Regions from separate parts of the Homo sapiens genome. Here region 2 is linked to region 1. The links come from fine-mapping of genetic effects on gene expression. A gene starts in region 1. The other region holds a variant in brackets. All regions are shown on one strand. Distances are from middle to middle. Region 1 holds the start of ATF1 (activating transcription factor 1). Region 2 overlaps ATF1 (activating transcription factor 1).

Region 1 (4,394 bases):
TGGTGAAACCCCGTCCCTACTTAAAAAACTACAAAAATTAGCCAGCTGTGATGGCACACACCTGTAATCTCTCAGCTACTTGGAGGCTGAGGCAGGAGAATCACTGAAATCCGGGAGGTGGAGGTTGCAACGAGCCAAGATTGCACCAGTGCACTCCAGCCTGGGCGACAGAGGCAGACTCCATCTCAAAAAAAAAAAAAAAATTAGAGACAGTGTCTCATCTGTCATGTAGGCTTGAGTGCAGTGGCATGATCACAGCTCACTGTATCCTCAAACTCCCGAGCTCAAATGATCCTCCTGCCTCAGCCTCCCCAGTAGATGGGATTACAGGCGCATGCCACCAGGACTGGTCGAGCGTAACATTTGATTTAGACCTAAGGCACTAAGGAAGAGGAGCTAAAGAAGTAGTCAAGGCACATTTTGAAGGTTTCATTTTTCAATAAAATTTCCAGGTTTTTATTTTTTTTCTTTGGAGACAGTCTCCCTCTGTGGCTCAGGCTGGAGTGCAGTGGCGTGATCTTGGCTCACTGCAACATCTGCCTCCCAGGTTCAAGCGATTCTCATGCTTCAGCCTCCTGAGAGGCTGGGATTACAGGTGTGTGCCACCACACCTGGCTAATTTTTGTATTTTTAGTAGAGACGGGGTTTCACCATGTTGGCCAGGCTGGTCTCGAACTCCTGACCTCAGGTGATCTGCCCTCCCCCACCTCCCAAAGTGCTGGAATTACAGTCATGAACCACGACGCCTAGCCCCTCCCCCGCTTTTTACTGATCAACTTTTGTTAAGCATTCTGTGGTCCACGGAAGAAAAAACCAAACACCAAAGAACAATAAACTTGTACAACCAGCCTTCCAGCCATCAATATTCTGGATTCCAGAATGATTGAGGCTGGACTTTGTTAATCATCGAAGGCTGGTATCTGAGAAACTCTTCCTCTCCCTTACCTTTATAGGCCACTTTTCTTTCAGTAATGCTGAAACACTGACTTAATAACAGTTGTCCCCTGGTCTAGCATTTAATAGGTAATCCACAATTTTTGCTGAATGTCAATAGCTAAACGTTAGTGACCTCTTAAGACTGTCTGGCAGAGTAAATCTTCGGCTTTATATCACATTCTCCGACCCAAAGGGCCAAAAATAGGCAAAGCTCTCTCCACTAAATCGGTTTCCTAAATTGGGGATCTCAAACTAGTAAAATTTCAGAAAACTTTCGGAACTTTTGTCAAGAGCATACTAAAAAAGTTTATCTTTTGTCGTTTACTATCATTAAAGCCATAAAACAGCATTTTACAAGGAAATTTTAAAAATTAAGAATAAGGCATAACTCCCTTCCAGAGAGGTAGACCCAAAAATATTCTGAAGTTTTTGTAATGCATTAAAATGACGGCATAACATTTTATTAACACTCTGTTACGTTTCTTTTTTCTTTTTTTTTGAGACAGTTTTGCTCTTGTTGCCCAGGCTGGAGTGCAACGGTGCGATCTCGGCTCACCGCAACCTCCGCCTCCCGGGTTCAAGCGATTCTCCTGCCTCAGCCTCCCAAGTAGCTTGGATTACAGGCATTCGCCACCACACCCGGCTACTTTTGTATTTTTTAGTAGAGACGGGGTTTCTCCATGTTGGTCAGGCTGGTTTCGAACTCCCGATCTCAGGTGATCCGCCCTCCTGGGCCTCCCAAAGTGCTGGGATTACAGGCATGAGCCACCGCGCCCGGCCACATCGTTATGTCTCATTGTAAATCCGTTTCTGTAGAAAATCCTTCCACATGGGTTAAAGGACACAACTCATTGTTACTTTATGGGATTAAGAAAAATCTGAGTAAGGCCGGGCACGGTGGCTCACGCCTGTAATCCCAGAACTTTGAGAGGCCGAGGCGGAGGATCACTTGAGCCCAGGAGTTCAAGACCAGCCTGAGCAACATAGAGTCCTCATCTCTTCAAGCCGAGCGTGGTAGCGCGCGCCTGTGGTCCCAGCTGCCCCATAGGCTGAGGTTGGAGAATCGCTTGAATCCCGGGGTTGGAGGCTGCAGTGAGTCGAGATCGAACCACTGCACTACAGCCTGGGCCACAGACCCCCGTCTCAATCTCGGAAAAAAAAAAGAGACTCCATCTAAAAAAAAAAAAAAAAAAAAAAAGCTGAGGAAGTCAAAGCCTTCACTCTTCATTTCTCCTTCCAAGAGGACAGGGCCGGCGTCGGTCAAGGTCAATTGGCAGGTGAGTTGACAGCGCCGCCACTAATCGATGAAAACGCCCCCCGCGAGCACCCAGCTGCTCATGGCCTCCGGAAGCGGACGTAGGGCGGGTGGGGTACAGCTCCTAAGGAGAAACGGAACCGCAGGCACCGTCCCTCTCCCGCTGCAGCCTGAGGAACGCGTTCCGAGGAACCCCTAGCCACAAGTCAGGACCGCGTACAAGATGGCGGCGCGTCACGTGGGCAGCGCGGTGACGCAGGACGGCGGCCCGCGCGGAGGCAGCGCCATAGCCTACCCCAAACGCACACTAGTGCTCAGTTTTGCCCCCCTCCCCTCCCCCGCCCCCGCCCCCGCCCCCAGGCTTGTGTAGATCATGCCGCCAGTAGCGGCCCTGACTGCCGAGGAAACGGTAGCTTAGGACAGTTGGCTGTTAAGTGACACTGATTCTCCCCGCCCCGCCTGACCCCCGAGAAGGAGGCTTGTCCCCCGCTGCGTGAGGGGGTGGGGAAGTGGGTAGTGAATTCGGATCTACCTGGGAGGGGGGAGTGGAAGTTCCCGCCCCGGAGAGCGGCGAGGCGGCAGCCACAGGTAAGTGGGGGGCGGGGAGGGACGTGCCCCGTGGCCCGGGCGGGGAAGGACGCGGGAACGTGGCGCCGGCGGGGACGCAGCGCGGGTCGCGCGCCTGGTGGGGGTCGCGCGCGGTGGTGGCGGTGGGGGAGGGGCGCAGCGGCAGGGGGAGGGGCCGCCCGCGCTTCCGGCCTCCGCGCCTCGGTGCAGAGCTGCGCTGCGCCCTTCCAGTCGTGCGTCTCCTCCTTTCCCTCGCCCCCAAATAAAAGTAAAGCCCGAAACCGCCCGCCGCGGGGTGGCTTTCGCCTCAGAAGCCGCCCTTTGCAGTCGCAGGCGCTAGCTCTCCGTGGGAGGTCTCGAGGTTGGGCCCGGAGCCGGGCGGAGGGCGGCGCGGATATGGCCTCGGCGCGGTGTCCGCCGAGCGGAGCCCGGGTCTGGTTAACCCCGCGACAGGGTCCTCGAAGCGCGTCGGCGCTGGCGACCCTGAGGGAAGAGGCGCGCCCCTTACCCTCCTGGAGCTTGCAGTCTAGCGGGCAACCGACGCACGGGCATTGCGCACGCCCCAGACAGTCCTGGAGAGATGCGCCTGGCAGCGGAGACAGAGTGGGGACAGTAGGCGGCTTTACCCCTGGCTAGGAATGACACAAGGGCGTCTGTACCCTTTGGGATGGGCGACCCAGCCGAGGGTGACTTTCTCTTTGATCTTGTATGTCAAAAAACGAAGCCTGGCATTTCTCACTTTGATCGACGCCGTGCAGCTGGCGGCTGAATCGCTTTGAAATGATTGCAATGTGAAATAATGTCTGGTTGTGGCGCTAGTGTTTTGAAGAGATTGGGCAACTGGTAGTCTTTGAGAACCTTTAGGGTTCAGAAGCTCGGCGTGGATCTGGCAGGCATCTTTGTCAAACTGGCCTCACCTGTGATGAGTTCGTAGGCATTTATGTCTCAGAATGCATTTTAACCTGAGGTTTTTGTTAACAGAAATGCGTTCTTCTAAAATGCTCTTTTTTCTTGGAGTTTATCATATGCAGTTATCTCCGTGTCTTAATTAGAATCAATACTGTTGCCCTAAAGTCGAATGTATTAGCTCTTTAATACTTGCCGTTATCTTTTAGGGTTAGGTTTGGTCTGTGAGCTATCTGTCCATTCCTACCCGATCACCAGCAGGTGGCAGTCCCTTCTGACTTTAAATATAGGGTGTGCTATCTTTGCCAGTTTTTGTTTTGTTTTGTTTGTTTGTTTGTTTGTTTTTAAATAGAGATGGTGTCAGAGGCGTGTGAACTAGAACAACTCCATCTTAAACAGGAGCTGGGTAAAATGAGGCTGAAACCTACTGGGCTGCATTCCCAGACAGTTAAGGCATTCTAAGTCACAGGATGAGACAAGTCAGCACAAAATACAGGTCATGAAGACCTTGCTGATAAAACAGGTTGCAGTAAAGAAGCCGGCCAAAACTGAAATGGCCACAAGAGTGACCCCTGGTCATCCTCACTGCTACACTCCCATCAGCGCCATTTACAAATCCCATGGCAATGTCAGGAAGTTACCCTATATGGTCTAAAAAGGGGAGGCGTGATTAATCCACCCCTTGTTTAGCCTATCATTGAGAAATAACAGTAAAAAGGGGTAACCAGCA
Region 2 (4,394 bases), 56 kb after region 1:
CTTAAAAATAAGTCTGTTAACTGGGAAAAATATTTGCAACTTTTATATAAAGAGAAAGAATTACGAGATGTATAGGTTATATAAAGATTTATTTCTGTAAATAAGAGACCTAACAGAAGGAAACCGGTCTGTGAAAGATGGCCTTGTAAACATGAAATTATTCCAAACTTTGTGCATAATGAGGGAAATGTTAAAGCAGTGAGGTTCGCTTTTTGTCAGCCGCTAGACTGACAACCATTTTAAAATGTTCATAACAGGCACTCTCATGTACTGCCCCTGGGAATGTAAATGGTACAAATACTCTGGAGGACATTCTGGCATTTTTTCCCTTTTTTCTTTCTGGTTTGACTCTGGGATTTTTTTCCTTCCTTTTTTCCCCCCTTATTTCTCTGTACTTCAATGAATATAAATTGGCACTATCTCTTGACTTTAAGTGAATATAGCTTGTGATCCTTCAAGAAATACATGTGTAGAAATACACGTAAAGAATGGAGGCTGAGTGGGTGGCTCATGCCCATAATCCCGACACCGTGACCAGGAGTGAGACCAGCCTAGGCAACATACTGAGACCTCATCTCTACAAAAATAAAATTAGCTGGTGTGGTGGTGTACACCTGTAGTCCCAGCTACTTGAGAGGCTGAAGTGGGGATATCTTGAGTCCAGGAGGTCAAGGTTGCAATGAGCTGTGATTGTGCCACTGCACTCAGCCTGGTTGACAGAGTGAGACCCTGTCTCAAAACAAAAGAAGAAAAAAGAAAAAGAATGTTTACTGGAAACCACTTAAAACAAACAAACAAACAGAGCTTAAAGGTAAAAATAAAGTCTTTTTGTGAGGGGAAAGATTTTGTACAGTCCTTTTAAAGATGTGTACTAAAAAGCAAGTTGCAAATAGTATCTACATATATAGCATAAAAATCTTAAAATAGTACTGTTTCTTTCTTTCTTTCTTTTTCTGAGACAGAGTCTTGCTCTGTTGCCCAGGGTGGAGTGCAGTGGCGCGATCTTGGCTCACTGCAACCTCCACCTCCCAGCTTCAAGTGATCCTCCTGGGTCAGACTCCCAAGTAGCTGGGATTACAGGCATGTGCCACCACAGCTAATTTTTGTATTTTTAGTAGAGATGAGGTTTTGCCATGTTGGCCAGGCTGGTCTCGAACTCCTGACCTCAGGTGATCTGCCCGCCTTGGCCTCTTAAAGTGCTGGGATTACAGGCATGAGCCACCATGCCTGGCCAATACTTCCGATTTCTATATGTATATAAACTTACATATGACTTCACAGAAATGTTTTAAGAGGACATGCACAGAACTGAGTATTTGCTCAAGCATTGTTTGTAATTTGAACTTAAATAAAAGAAGTCATGTGTCAGAAGTTAACCAGAGGACCCATAATTTCACTCTTTGGTATTTATTCAAGAGAAATGAAACCTTTCTACAAAAAGACTGGCACAAAAACATGCCTATGCAGCTAACCCTAGAAACATCGCAAGAGACTGGATACACAAATGGTGGTTATATTCATACAGTGAACTATGTCCAGCAGTGTGAAGGAACAAACCCCCATGCAGCAACATGGATGAACCTCAGATGGGCTGAGTGAAGGGACACCAGAGTACATAGTGTATGACACTCTTACATGAGGTTCTAGAATAGGAAAAAAACTAATCTCTGGTGATAAAAATCAAAACGATAGTTGCTTGGAAGGGGGCTGACCAGGAAGGGGCATGAGGGAACTTTCTGGGACAGTGGGAATGTTCTGTTGTCTTGACAGAGGTGTGGGTTATACAGGTATACACAATTGCCAAAACTGACTGAATTCTACACTTAAGATCTATGTATTCTCTGTGTGTAGATGATACTTTAAAGAGAAAAAAAGGTGACCACGGAAAATTACTGAAGAACATTTACCATTTAAAGAATGTGAAGTTTTTTCTAACATTGTTTTTTTAATGCTCATATTTAGAGAAGCTGCTCGAGAATGTCGCAGAAAGAAGAAAGAATATGTGAAATGCCTGGAAAACCGAGTTGCAGTCCTGGAAAATCAAAATAAAACTCTAATAGAAGAGTTAAAAACTTTGAAGGATCTTTATTCCAATAAAAGTGTTTGATTCCTAAGAAAGAAAATATTTTTGTGGACATGCATAAAAATTAAATGGATTTCCTAGTGGAGTTTTATAAATTAAAAGGTCAAAACTGAAGCTTTTTATTTAGGCTTTTCCAAATCAAGGATAAATATCTTACGCACGATATCTAGTGACAGAGGAGAAAGTGGAAAATGACCTCAAGGAAGCTACGGGCACAACTGGAAGC[T/C]TTGTAGAAATTAAACATATTCAAGGAGCAAGAAATGAACTTTCAGCAGTCTAAATTTTCTAAATAACCAATAGTTGCCAATCTAAAATGGCAGAGAAGATGAAATTTGATAAACTGAATTTTTTTTAAAAATCCATTTACCCTACAGGTTTGCATTTGTTTGCTGAAATTTACCTTTTTTTAGTTATATATATGTGTGTGTGTGTGTGTAATTTCTGCCAATAAATTCTAAATTACAAAGGTAAGAGAAAACCTAGTACATTACTAAATATATAAAGTATATGTTCTGATTATGTATACTTGTTCTAGTGTCAAGTCTTTTTAAGTGGGTTTTTAAAAGTTTGTTATTGGACTTGAATGGATTTTTGAGACTAGGTTAATTATTTTTGAGGTCTTATCCTAAAAGGCATCTAAGGTACATGAATGGAGTATGGTGATTTTATAACATTTTTTATCAGAATGGAAAAAGAACTGTTTAAAAGTTTGATACTTTTAAATAGTTGGTTTTTTTGCTTACTCTGGTAATGATTTTCTACAAATACATAATAAATTGTTTTTTTGAGTCTATATTCTGTATGCAGTTGAATATCCATTACTTATTCTGCTGTGCTTTAATAGAATGGAATGTTTACAGGCCCTTAAAATATTATTTTTAAAAAACCTTCTGAAGATACATACCAAAGTTTTTCCAAGAAGATTTTATAATCAATTTAATAATGTAAGGTTTATCAGATTCTATAATAGTATAGTTATTAAGGCAATTTTATGTTAGAGACTATTTTGTAATGTAGTGAGTGGTACCTTTATAAGAAAAGTGACTGCCAATATATTTTTATAGCTGATCTTTATAAATTCTAATGTTGAGTTTTTAATGATTATTTTAAATGTTTATATAGTTTAGTAAAATTTGCATCTCAAAGTATCATTTTTATATTATGGGACGTTTTCAGATTGGCTAATATTTGCATTGTAAATTTTGTATGCAGTTTATCTAAAATTCAAAAATACTGTCAGTACACCAGCGTTTAACATCTATATTCCAATTTGTATACAGTTTAAAATTGTACTGCAAAACTATTGTGTGCTCTTACACAGTATGCATCATATTGTTGTCTGTGAAATTAAAGGACATTTGATAGTCTACTGAATGTAAAATATAATGCTTGGTATATGAATGATAAGCTTGCTCCTGGCCATGCTGTTAATTATCCTAATGCTACGTAGAAATCTTCACTTAACTGATACATTTGTGTTTGACCCTCCTGATGAAATTTCTCATTAGAAGGGTCTTTTAAAATGGGACTCTGTTGACTTGGCAGCACTTTATGAAAAGAAAAAAAAGTTTGATCGCCAGGGGGATTACTTATATCACTTACTACCTTGTGTAAAGCCAGAATCTCAAACTGGTGGCCCGTTAGGCCTAAGAATATGAGGAGGTATGAGGTCACTGGGTTATGTCAAAAGACTTTTTCAACAGATGATAATATATTATTGGGTAGACACCGTGCTTGTTTACAACAGAGGTAGCCTAGCTCTTAGTGCCTTAACAGCTGGACATCTGCAAATATTTGTAAACTCTGCTGCCTTCAGACTTCTGGTGTAGGGCCTTGCTAACTAGACCCAGTTACTTACTCTAGCTGTATGAAACAGGTCAGGGCAAACCATTAATGGTTCCATAAATGCATAACAAATTATTTTCCTGGGTGTTTTTCTAATTGGAATCCAATGTGGGGCTTATCAAATTTTTAAGTGATTATAGTCCAAACATGAAATTAGACTTCCAAAATGCAAAAGACTAATCAAATTATTTCCTTAGTTCAACTTGCTATTTTACTTATCAATTTACTCATTTATATATTATATTGATAGAAATAGATTATTGTCCACAAACACATATAGGGCATATAAGATATTCCTTTAATATTGAACAGAGCAGGAAGAATGGGCATTTGTTAGCATTTTGGAATTCTTACTGTATTTATTCATTCAGCAATTATTATATTGCAACTACTAGGTTAAACCTGCATTCTCCAATTAAAATATGAGGTCACAGTAGTGATATAAAAATGTGTATTAGGCCAGGCG

The links. PIP is the estimated chance that this variant, and not a neighbour inherited with it, causes the effect. A credible set is the group of variants that fine-mapping cannot tell apart.
Region 2: its variant is the best candidate, but not a certain one, in a credible set for the expression of ATF1 in esophagus muscle (GTEx, PIP 0.80).

Annotation. Positions count from the first base shown.
Region 1 is chr12:50,761,529-50,765,922 of GRCh38, forward strand. ATF1 (activating transcription factor 1) reads left to right here and starts at 2,573. Exons shown (of 7, transcript NM_005171.5): 1 at 2,573-2,779. RefSeq lists enhancers at 168-1,036, 3,337-3,436 and silencers at 2,527-2,606, 2,827-2,916.
Region 2 is chr12:50,817,673-50,822,066 of GRCh38, forward strand. ATF1 (activating transcription factor 1) reads left to right here. Exons shown (of 7, transcript NM_005171.5): 7 at 1,963-3,490. The coding sequence ends at 2,107. Among named protein-coding and RNA genes, the nearest start is that of TMPRSS12, 23 kb to the right of the region's middle. The variant T/C (reference allele first, on the strand shown) is at 2,310.